Linked DNA regions of Homo sapiens. The protein of the gene in region 1 purifies or fractionates together with the protein of each later gene. This does not show direct contact. Each region holds a gene or a part of one and is shown on either strand. Other genes may lie near its edges.

The links. The genes of interacting proteins can lie anywhere in the genome.
Region 2: the proteins of BCCIP (region 1) and TENT2 purify together in Homo sapiens (affinity purification with mass spectrometry; 3 studies listed by BioGRID and IntAct, with this or other methods). This does not show direct contact.

Annotation. Positions count from the first base shown.
Region 1 is NC_000010.11:125,833,422-125,837,051, forward strand, and holds the end of BCCIP (BRCA2 and CDKN1A-interacting protein), read left to right. Parts: intron 1-350; coding exon 351-525; intron 526-2,682; coding exon 2,683-2,853; 3' UTR 2,854-3,130; downstream 3,131-3,630. Other genes in the region: putative pre-mRNA-splicing factor ATP-dependent RNA helicase DHX32, read right to left, coding at 3,266-3,434. UniProt on the Homo sapiens protein: During interphase, required for microtubule organizing and anchoring activities. During mitosis, required for the organization and stabilization of the spindle pole.
Region 2 is NC_000005.10:79,608,106-79,615,440, reverse strand, and holds the start of TENT2 (poly(A) RNA polymerase GLD2), read right to left. Parts: upstream 3,001-7,335; 5' UTR 2,366-3,000; intron 2,224-2,365; exon of another isoform or gene 2,194-2,223; intron 1,507-2,193; exon of another isoform or gene 881-1,506; intron 1-880. UniProt on the Homo sapiens protein: Cytoplasmic poly(A) RNA polymerase that adds successive AMP monomers to the 3'-end of specific RNAs, forming a poly(A) tail. In contrast to the canonical nuclear poly(A) RNA polymerase, it only adds poly(A) to selected cytoplasmic mRNAs.

The DNA of each region.
Region 1 (3,630 bases):
TGCTTTAAAAAATTCAAAAATTCAGATTCGTATATATTTTTAACTTATGCACAGGCAGAGCAGTGATACATTGAGTGAATTTGAGACTCATCTGATCTGTTAGTTGCTATATATCCACAAATCAGCATAATCTGAGAGATATATCATAGTATTATAAAAAGTAATACATAATCTAAAATGCAACTGATTATGTAAATAAAAATCATTCCTGTAGACTAAGTGTTCAGATTGAATGCCTGCGTCACAGCAGAACCCACTGAAGATGCCTCACCGGGTTTTCTGTGCTCTGGTTTGTTGATGGATTTCACTTGACCCAGCAGGTAAACAAATGTTGTGTGTGTGCCTTGCAGGAAAGAACTGGCGGGGGCACACAGAACCAATAAGCCATGTGGGAAGTGCTACTTTTACCTTCTGATTAGTAAGACATTTGTGGAAGCAGGAAAAAACAATTCCAAAAAGAAACCTAGCAACAAAAAGAAAGCTGCGTTAATGTTTGCAAATGCAGAGGAAGAATTTTTCTATGAGGTAAGACTATCCTGCTTATTTGTTTAGATGTAAATAAGGATTTTCTTGAAAATGATTTATCAAGATTTATTGTTCTCCCACTTTAGGTCCAAGTCTTTCAAGTGTGGCTACTCTGTTTTTCTGTTTCCCCACAGGACCTAGCAGCTAACATAGTGCCAGGTGCATAGTAGGTACTCAGGAGGCTAGGCACCAGCCTCCTTGCCTGCACTGTGGTTATGAGCATGAGGAGGAGGAGGAGAAAAGTGATTAACCTGTTAAGAATGATTAGGCATTTATAATATGCTTCCTGTGAAATCTTTCATTCTAAAACCATGCGGAGAGGTAGACATTAGCCTGGGGTTTACAGATGTGGACTTTAAGGCATAGGGAAATGAGGGAAATTACCTGCGATCACACAGCTGGTCAGTGTGGAAGCTGGGGCACCCCTGCTGCTCTGTGTCCTTAGTCGTGGATGTCATCCTGCTGGTGGGATATCTCCAGCATTTTTTTCCTATAAAGGTAGCTTGTACTGTGATGGACAGCCATATACCAGAGAATATTCTTACCCTCTCTTCCTCTGAAAAATCTTGAAGTGGGCCAGGTGCGGTGGTGCACACCTGTAATCCCAGCACCTTGGGAAGCTGAGGCGGGCAGATCACCTGAGGCCAGAAATTCAAGACCAGCCTGGCCAACAGGGAGAAACCCCATCTCTACTAAAAATACAAAAAAAAAAAAATTAGCCGGGCATGGTGGCAGATGCCTGTAATCCCAGCTACTCGGAAGGCTAAGGCAGGAAAATTGCTTGAACCTGGGAGGCAGAGGCTGCAGTGAGCCGAGATCGCGCCACTGCACTCCAGCCTGAGCAACAAGGAAGAAACTCCGTCTCAAAAACAAACAAACAAACAAAAAACACAAAAACATCTTGAGCCAGGCACGGTGGCTCACGCCTGTAATCCCAGCACTTTGGGAGGTCAAGGCGGGTGGATCACGAGGTCAGGAGATCGAGACCATCCTGGCTAACATGGTGAAACCCCGTCTCTACTAAAAAATACAAAAAATTAGCCGGGCGTGGTGGCACGTGCCTGTAGTCCCAGCTACTCGGGAGGCTGAGGCAGGAGAATGGCATAAACCCGGGAGGCGGAGCTTGCAGTGAGCCGAGATTGCGCCACTGCACTCCAGCCTGGGCGACAGAGCGAGACTCTGTCTCAGAAAAAAAAAAATCTTGAAGTGTATCTCTGAGGGGAACATATTTTCCTGAATTGGATGATATCACATCACTTTGAAGACTTCTGCAGAAGACTAAAGCGCTACAAATTTAGCTGTGCCCTTCTTTTCCAGGAAGTAAATAGTAAACATAATTTTTAAAAAACATAGGCCGGGTGCGGTGGCTCATGCCTGTAATCCCAGCACTTTGGGAGGCCAAGGCGGGCGGATCACGAGGTCAGGAGATCAGACCATCCTGGCTAACACGATGAAACGCTGTCTTTACTAAAAATACAAAAAATTAGCCAGGCACAATGGTGGGCACCGGTAGTCCCAGCTACTTGGGAGGCTGAGGCAGGAGAATGGTGTGAACCCGGGAGGCAGAGCTTGCGGTGAGCCGAGATCACGCCACTGCACTCCAGCCTGGGTGACAGAGTGAGACTCTGTCTCAAAAAAAAAAAACAAACAAACAAAAAAAACAAAACCATATGCTTCAACACCTCAGGTTGACCATTTGGGGGGAGTGTGTATGGGTGTTTTAAGATGGCGGGGTATGCAGATTTACTCTGTCTTCACACAAAAGCCTGATGCTAAGGAAGCAGCTGAGAAAGTGAGAAAAGAGTGTTTGAAGACAAGTTCTTGTTAAATATCAAATTTTACAAGTCTTAATTTCATTATGTTTCACAAGATTATTTTGACAATTAAATGAAAATACCACTTAGCTGCTTGTTCACCTCTTAGAAATTGCACACCTCTATCCCTGTTCCTCATGTGGGTTTAAAATCTACTTGGTTTGTGTTTTATAACTTCTGCCTGAATGTCCCATTTGAACTTTTTCAATTCTGAGTTTTGCTTTTTTTTAGCTCTCATTCTTATTTAAGCATATGCCAAACGTAATATTCTTTGCCGTAGATCAAATGGGTTTTGTCTTTGGGTTGTCCCGATTTTTAATTCATGGTTACTTATTTGGTTTAGAAGGCAATTCTCAAGTTCAACTACTCAGTGCAGGAGGAGAGCGACACTTGTCTGGGAGGCAAATGGTCTTTTGATGACGTACCAATGACGCCCTTGCGAACTGTGATGTTAATTCCAGGCGACAAGATGAACGAAATCATGGATAAACTGAAAGAATATCTATCTGTCTAACCCATTTCCAATGGACAGTGATGGGCTTGTTTTTGTAAAATTACCAGAAAACTCAGTGGAGATTTACTGAAAAACTCAGACTTTATTCAGATTAAGTTCCTCTACAAAAAGTAGGGTTCTGTCCCATGTGTCTCTGACACATTTACAAAATACCAGTTTTTTAAAATTTTGGTCAAATTATGAGTGGTTGATTTAAAAACTTTTCCAAGAAGAAGAAAAGCATGGAGTAGTAATTTAAAGAACTCAATAAAAACTTCTATTTTTTATTTTAAAATAATATACACAGTGTTATTTTCTTCAAGACCGTCCTGTGGATGTGAAATCCGTCTTCGCGTCATGTATCTCCCATATCCAGCAGTTCAGCCATCCAGCTACCTTTGGGACCCTGCTGCACCTTGTGTTTGCTGGGGAGTCACTGGAGAGTGCATCTCTGTTCAGTTTCAGGGCACGTCTCACACATTTGCTGTTCCTTATTCATTGTTGACACAGGGGATAGGTGATCCACTACTTGCTGTAGAATGTCCTTACTTTCACTAGGAGGCAGATTACTGAAATAGTATTGTGGTACCAGCTGCATAAATCTGTTTATTTAAGACAAAAAGATGAGATTATGAGTGGGGAAGGTGGTGAGAGACACCAAACATTATGTCTGGGCACTTCCCATCCCTGGAGAATCTACCTGTAGAACCGGTATTTAATTTGAACTCAGATAGTATCTCAGTCCGACTTTGTAAAATAAATACTTTCTGTTTTTTATGCAGCCAATCCTGTTGCATT
Region 2 (7,335 bases), on another chromosome or scaffold:
TTAAAATCTTGTACTTTCAGGTTTATTTAAATCGGTTCATAGCAAAAAGCCTAGATACTTTTGTTTATACCTATAAAAAATATGCTGTTTTTCCTCTATAACTGAATAAGGTCCATGTATATTAAGATTTGAAGATGCAAAATGACATCAAGAGCCCAGGCCTCACCTTGTTTTCATCTCTTACACAGCCAAATCCAAACTAAGTCTAAAGATGACTTGTGGCTCAGAACTACTCTACCAAGTTAATGACCAAATTATCCCCAGCTTAAAAACTTAGATTGAGTCCACAGCCAGATGTTTAGTCTAGGGCAGAAATCTAGTTTAGCATATTCCAAATTCCCAGAAATATATCAAGCTCTGGAGCCCCTGCAAAACAAAGGATCTGTCAGCCTCTCCTCAGTATGAATTTTGGCCCTCAAGTCAGGCTCTTTTTAAAGAAGGTAGGCTTCAAGTAGAGGAAAATCATTCCGACGCATTCGTTCTATGCTCACCAATATAGGTATTCTGAAAGACATCTAGAGTTGAGGAAGTAAATGAAACGCCTATGAATTTCTATGCCTTTTTCTAATACATTTCACATTGATTTTGATGAAAATAAAAATGACATCAAAACAATTATCATAAACAACATAATCATTTTTTTAAAGAGACTGTAGAGTTTCACAAAATACAGTAAAACTATTACTGTAACAGAAATAAGGGGACCTCCACAAAATTTTAAATCATTTTCTTCATACTCTGAATGAAAGGTTTCTTAAGTAGAGATTAGCTATATAAAACGTTACTCCACATTAACTATGGTCTTCTACCATCTCCTATGTGACAAATTTTATGATAGATACATAAAATCCAGATATTGGCAATATCCAATTTTCCTTACCTTAAAAGTTATCAGTTCCACAATCTGTACTTGACCATGAAAGAGTATACTGGTACTTTCTTTACGGAGAAAACCTTAAAGACGGTTTCCTAAGGTGGACCCAATGGGAAATTACACAGGTTTACATGAGACAAGGTAGTAAAAGAGTAGATTAATTCGGCCGGGCACAGTGGCTCACGCCTGTAATCCCAGCACTTTGGGAGGCCGAGGCGGATGGATCACCTGAGGTCAGGAGTTGGAGACCAGCCTGGCCAACATGGTGAAACCCTGCCTCTACTAAAAATACAAAAATTAGCCAAGCATAGTGGCACGTGCCTGTAATCCCAGCTACTCGGCAGGCTGAGGCAGGAGATCGCTTGAACCCAGGAGGCAGAGGCTGCAGTGAGCCAAGATAGTGCCATTGCACTGTAGCCTGGGTGACAAGATCAAGATTCCGTCTTGCAAAAAAAAAAAAAAAAAAAAAAAAAAAGATTAATTCCTAGTAATTTCTAGTTATAAAGTATTTGGTCCTGGAATTTGCAACCTGGAATTTCTGTCCTCAACTTGACCTCTCCTCCAACAAATTAGAGAACACTCAAGGTTATATATAATTCCTTCATCAGGATTCTTTAGAAAGCAGAATATACCTAGAATGAAAACCAGAAATTTACTGGCTAAACCAAGATACTGTCCATTTTGTCCAAATACCTTTGATATCTCAAACCCACTTTTCTCCACAATACGAAAAATCCAGTTCCTAAATCCTGCCAACCCACTGTGAAAACTACTTCCAGGTTTTGAACAGGATATTCCTTTTGGTTAAGAATTAAATTACACCCAAGTGTTCAAAAAAATAATCTAGTCACATGGCTCCAAATGGGCATTTCTTAAACAACTCATAAACGGCCTATTTCACATGGAACCTGTTACAGGACATTTCCAGAACAGACATAATTAGGGCTATTCACACCAACAAAGTAACGTCACTATTACTGGCTATTAATCAGTATAAATTAATAGCCTTATGGCTGTTAATCAGTACGTGTTAGAAGCCTGGTGGTACTGAACCATACAATATGAAGATATTTACAAAAGTTACTATGTTACCTGTAATATAAAAACACAGATTTAGTAATCAGTTACAATCTCTTTCTTCACAAAATCATACACTGCACATGTGTTATTTAGCTTGTGTTTTACAGTTTCCCTTTGTTTCTTCTCTGTTCACCCTAATGAAAAATATCTGCTACTTTAAACAAAGAGTTGAAAGAGATAAGACAAGTAATTTAGAGAATCCATAAGTTTTGAGACATATAAGCCTTTCGTGTTCTCACCTTGAGAGACGAAGAGCTTTTCTACAAAGGCTGAACAAGAAAAGAAACGCACACAACAGTCTTAACCTGTGCATTTTCCTATAAAGTGAAAAGCTGAAGCAATTTCATGCCATTTAATTAAGGCTTAAAAGATAAATGCCTTTTAAATTTTTTAATTAATCCAGCTACGTACCTTAGTTCTTCACCACCCTTTGAAACACCATGCAAGGGTCCCAAGACTATCTTCCTCTTTTGGTCCTGGAGTGGTGGACGAGGCAGTACGCGAGGAATAGAAAACGAGTAAGCAAAGTAAGCGGTCCTAAGATTCTTCAAAATGTACAGCAGCCCAGATGCCGCCCATAAATTTGGAATAACCAAGAGATACTGCTGGAACCTCCCACGCAAAACAAAACGCTACCGTTTCGGAAAAGTTTCCCGTGCCCCGCCGCCGACCTGGGCCTACACTGCTGCGTTCCTCTCCGAAACCCCCTAAACTCACAGGTGTCCTCCGGGAAGGGCTAAGCAGGGCCTACCCGCACTGCCCGTTCAGAAGTTCTAAGGCCCGAGCTGGGCGTACTTGGTCGTAGCTTTCTCCCGAACCAAAGGAGGTAGTGGTGGCCCGTGGGACAGCTAGGCCCAGCTCCGGCTCCGGCTGAGATCTAACCCCCCTCACGGCTGCCAGGGGAGGAGCAACACAAGAAAAGGTAGGGGCTGCAAGGATATAGAAGGTTGGGGGCGGTGGCAAAAAGCGGAAGAGCAAAAAGTCGCCGAAAAAGCGGCGTAGAAAACCCTGTCAAAGACACCCGGAAGACCGACGTGACCCCGGATGAGAATAGGCAGCGGGGAGCGAAAGGTCACACTTCCGGTGGCCGCCTCCCTCCCACCCCCCAACCCCCCCCACCCCCCAACCCCCCCCACCCCCCCCACCCCGCCTATGAGCGCTTTGCTTGAATGCGCAGGCGCAAGACAGCCGGATTTGAAAGGAGTTTCTTAACTGCTGCCAGCACAAGTTGGGAAAGGGTTAGGACTGCACTAAGAGGGGTGGAGCAGGCAGTCGCCGGAGGGCCACTTCTGGGCCCCTTGCCTGAACTCACGTGCAGCCGTTCTAGCTGTAACAGACGTTTTCTGTGGGTCCTTCGTGTGTTGGCCGAGTGACTTGTCCCCAGAGAAGCCTTTCTTTAACCAGTGTTCCCCTAATCTTCTCCCCCGGAGCAACATTAAACTTTATCTGTTCTTTTGCCCCTCCAGTAACCTGAGAGCTTCTTTGGAAGGAAAATGCTTTCTTTGGCCGGACGCGGTGGCTCACCCCTGTAATCCTAGCACTTTGGGAGGCTGAGGCGGGCGGATCACGAGGTCAGGAGTTCGAGACCAGCCTGGCCAACATGGTGAAACCCCATCTTTACTAAAAATACAAAAATTAGCCGAGCTTGGTGGCGTGCGCCTGTAACCCCGCTACTCAAGAGGCTGAGGCTGGCGAATCGCTTGAACCCGGGAGGCGGAGGTTGCAGTGAGCCGAGATCGTGCCACAGCACTCCAGCCTGGGCGACAGAGCAAGACTTTGTCTCAAAAAAAAAAAAAAAAAAAAATGCTTTCTTTCTCTCTAAAGCCTGGACTTAGCGCCTTGCCCATAGTAATAGCTGGTATTCACTAATTCAACAAATATTTATTGATATCGCCTCTTGAGTGAGCTTTAATAATTTGTAGAAATGTCTAAATTGTTTAATAATGCAAATCTGTTAGCTGTATTCCTTTATTGTCCACTTAATGTCTATAAAATCTGACCCCTCAGGTTCTGAAATTGGTAATTTGTGTGTCATCTTTTTTTCTGATCGATCTGGTGAGGGGCTTCTCGGTTTACGGATCTCAAATCTCAAAGCCCGTTTTTGCTTTCTTGGATTTTCTCTACTGGTTTTCTGTTTTCTATTTTATTGATTTCTGCTCTTATGTTTATTGTTTCCTTTACTCTGCTATTTTTTAATTTTTAAATTTCTTGTTTTGTTTCTCTAGTTTCTTAACTCAGAAACTGATGACCATTAATTTTAGATGTCTCTTGTTTGTACAGGCATTTGGTGTGATAAGTGTCCCTCTATACTGTTTTAGCTACATTCCACATATTTTGATATATTGTATTTTCATTTTCCTTCATTTCAAAATACTTTGTAATTTCCCTATTGCTTTCTTTTTTTGACCATGGGTTTTTTGTAAGTGTTGGTCTGCAAATGTGGAGGAGTTTTCCAGGTAGCTGCCTGTTACTGATTTCTGATTTAATCCCATTGTGATCAGAGAAGGTACTTCGTACACTATTAATAATTTTAAACTTATTGACACTTGTTCTGTGGCCCAGAGTATATAGTCTGTCTTGGTAAATACTCACTGTGCATTTGAAATGAATGTGTTTTTTGCAGTTGTTGCATGGAGTGTTCTATAAATGTCAATCATGTCAAGTTGGTTGATATTAGTGTTCAAATCTATATCCTTTCTGATTTACTGTCTACTTATTCTACTAATTATTGAGAGTATTGAAATTTCTGACTATTACTGGTTTTTTTCAATTGTAGTTCTATCAATTTCTGCTTCATGTACTTTGCAGCTCAGCTATTAGTTGCATAAACATAGTTATTCTCTTATTTGTATGAATTTATCCTTTATGAAAGTTTCATTATTATGAAATTATCCACTTTACAAATGACCCTCCTCTTTGCTGATAATGTTCTTTGCTCTGAAGTATATTTTGTCTGATAGTATTACAGCTACTTAGGCTTTCTTTTGTAGGGTGTTAACATGGTATATATAAGGAAAACATAATTCCAATTCTAGATAAAGTCCTCCAAAAATTGAAGAGGAGGGAATACTTCCCAGCTCATTCTGTGGGGCCAGCATTACACTAATACCCAAACTCTAGATATTAAACAAGCAAACTATGGACCAATATCTCTCATAAACATAATATGCACAATTCTAGTCACTTTTATTTCACAGTATATAAAAAAGATAATACATTATATCCAAACAGGTGCTTATCCTAGGAATGCAAGGTTGAATTAGCATTGTATTGACCATAAAAGAGTATACTGGTACTTGCTTTACGGAGAAAACTTTAAAGACTGTTTCCTAAGGTGGACCCAATGGGAAATTACACAGGTTTACATGAGACAAGGCAGTAAAAAGTAGATTATATAAAAAAGATATATAAATATATAAATACATAAAAATATATAAAAAAGATAATACATTATAACCAAACAGGGGCTTATCCTAGGAATGCAAGGTTGAATTAGCATTGGTAAATCAAGCAATGTAATTTACCATATTAACAAACTAAAAAAGAAAAACCATTTGATAATCTCAATACATGCAGCAAATGCATTGGACAAAATCCAGTATCCATTCCTAAGATTACAAGGAAACTTCCTCAACTTGATAGAGAGTGTCTATAAAAAGCATCACACTTAATGGTGAAGAACAGTGCTTTCAACTTAAGATCAGGAACAAGGCAAGGATTTCTGCTCTGACAACTTATGTTCAATATTGTACTGGGGATTCTAGCCTGTGCAATAAGGCAAGGAAAAAAAAAAGGCATTCAAATTAGCAAAGAAGGAAGTAAAACTGGTTTTATTTGTTTTATTTATTGAAAACTCTGGCACAAAATCTACAAAAAACTATCAGATCAAATAAATGACCAAGACTACAGGTCGTAAAATCAATACACAAATGTCAATGGCATTTGTAGTACACCAGCAATAAACAATCTGAAATTGAAATTTAAAATACCATCTACAACAGCATCAAAAATTTGAGGCGGGCATGGTGGCATGCACCTGTAGTCCCAGCTACTTGAGAGGATGAGGCAGAGAATCACTTGAGCCCAGGAGTATGATGGCATTATGATAGGTCACTGCAGCCCCAGAAAGAGAATGGAAAGACAAGCCAAAAACTGAAGCAGCTATTTGCAAATCACGTATCTGATAAGAATGTGTGTGTGTGGTTGTTTTTTTTTTTTTTTTTTTTTTTGAGATAGGGTCTTGCTGTGTCTCAAAAGAGCTGGAGTGTAGTGGCATGCTCACGACTCACTGCTACCTCGACTTCCCAGGCTCAAGTGATCCTCCCACCTCAACTTCCTTAGTGCTGGGACTACAGGTGTGCACCACCATGCCTGATTAATTATTGTATTTGTTATAGAGGATGGAGTTTCCCCATGTTGCCCAGGCTGGTCTCGAACTCCTTGACTCAAGCAATCCACCTGCCTCAGACTCTCTAAGTGCCGGAATTACAAGTGTGAGCCATCATGCCAGGCCCTGGTAAATAATTTATATCCAGGCTGGGCAAGATGGCTCACGCCTGTAATCTCAGCACTTTGGGAGGCCGAGGTGGGTGGATCACAAGGTCAGTAGTTCGAGACCAGCCTGGCCAATATGGTGAAACCCCGACTCTACTAAAAATACAAAAATTAGCCTGGCATGGTGGCAGGCGCCTGTAGTCCCAGCTACTTGGGAGGCTGAAGCAGGAGAATCACTTGAACCCGGGAGGCAGAGGTTGCAGTGAGCCGAGATCACGCCATTGCACTCCAGCCTGGGTGACAGGGCAAGACTCTGTCCACAAAAAAAAAAAAAAAAAAAAAAAAAAAAAAATTTATATCCAGAGTGTCTATTTTTTGAACTCTCATACCTCAATAGTAACCCAAAAAAATGGGCAAAAGGTTTGAAGAGACATTTCATCAAAGAAGCCATATATGGATGACAAATAAAGGCATGAAAAGATATGCAACATCATTAGTCATTAGAAGAAATACAGATTAAGAGAAAAATATAAATTAAGACCTCAACAACATACCCTACCTATTTGATGGTAAATTCCAAAAGACTAGTCATACCAAGAATTTGTCAGAACATAGAGCAACTGAAACTCATACACTACTAATGGGAATATGAAATGGTACAAGCACTTTGGAAAAAACTTAGGAAGTTTCTTAAAAGGGTAAGCATACATTTATTTGCATATGATTCAGACATTCCATCCCTAGGTATTTACTCAAAAGAAATGAAAGCACATGTCCACAGAAGGACTTGTACACAAATGTTCATAGCAACTGTATTTGTAATTACCTGTAATCCCAACCCTTTGGGAGGCCAAGGCGGGAGGATTGCTTGAGGCCAGGAGTTGGAG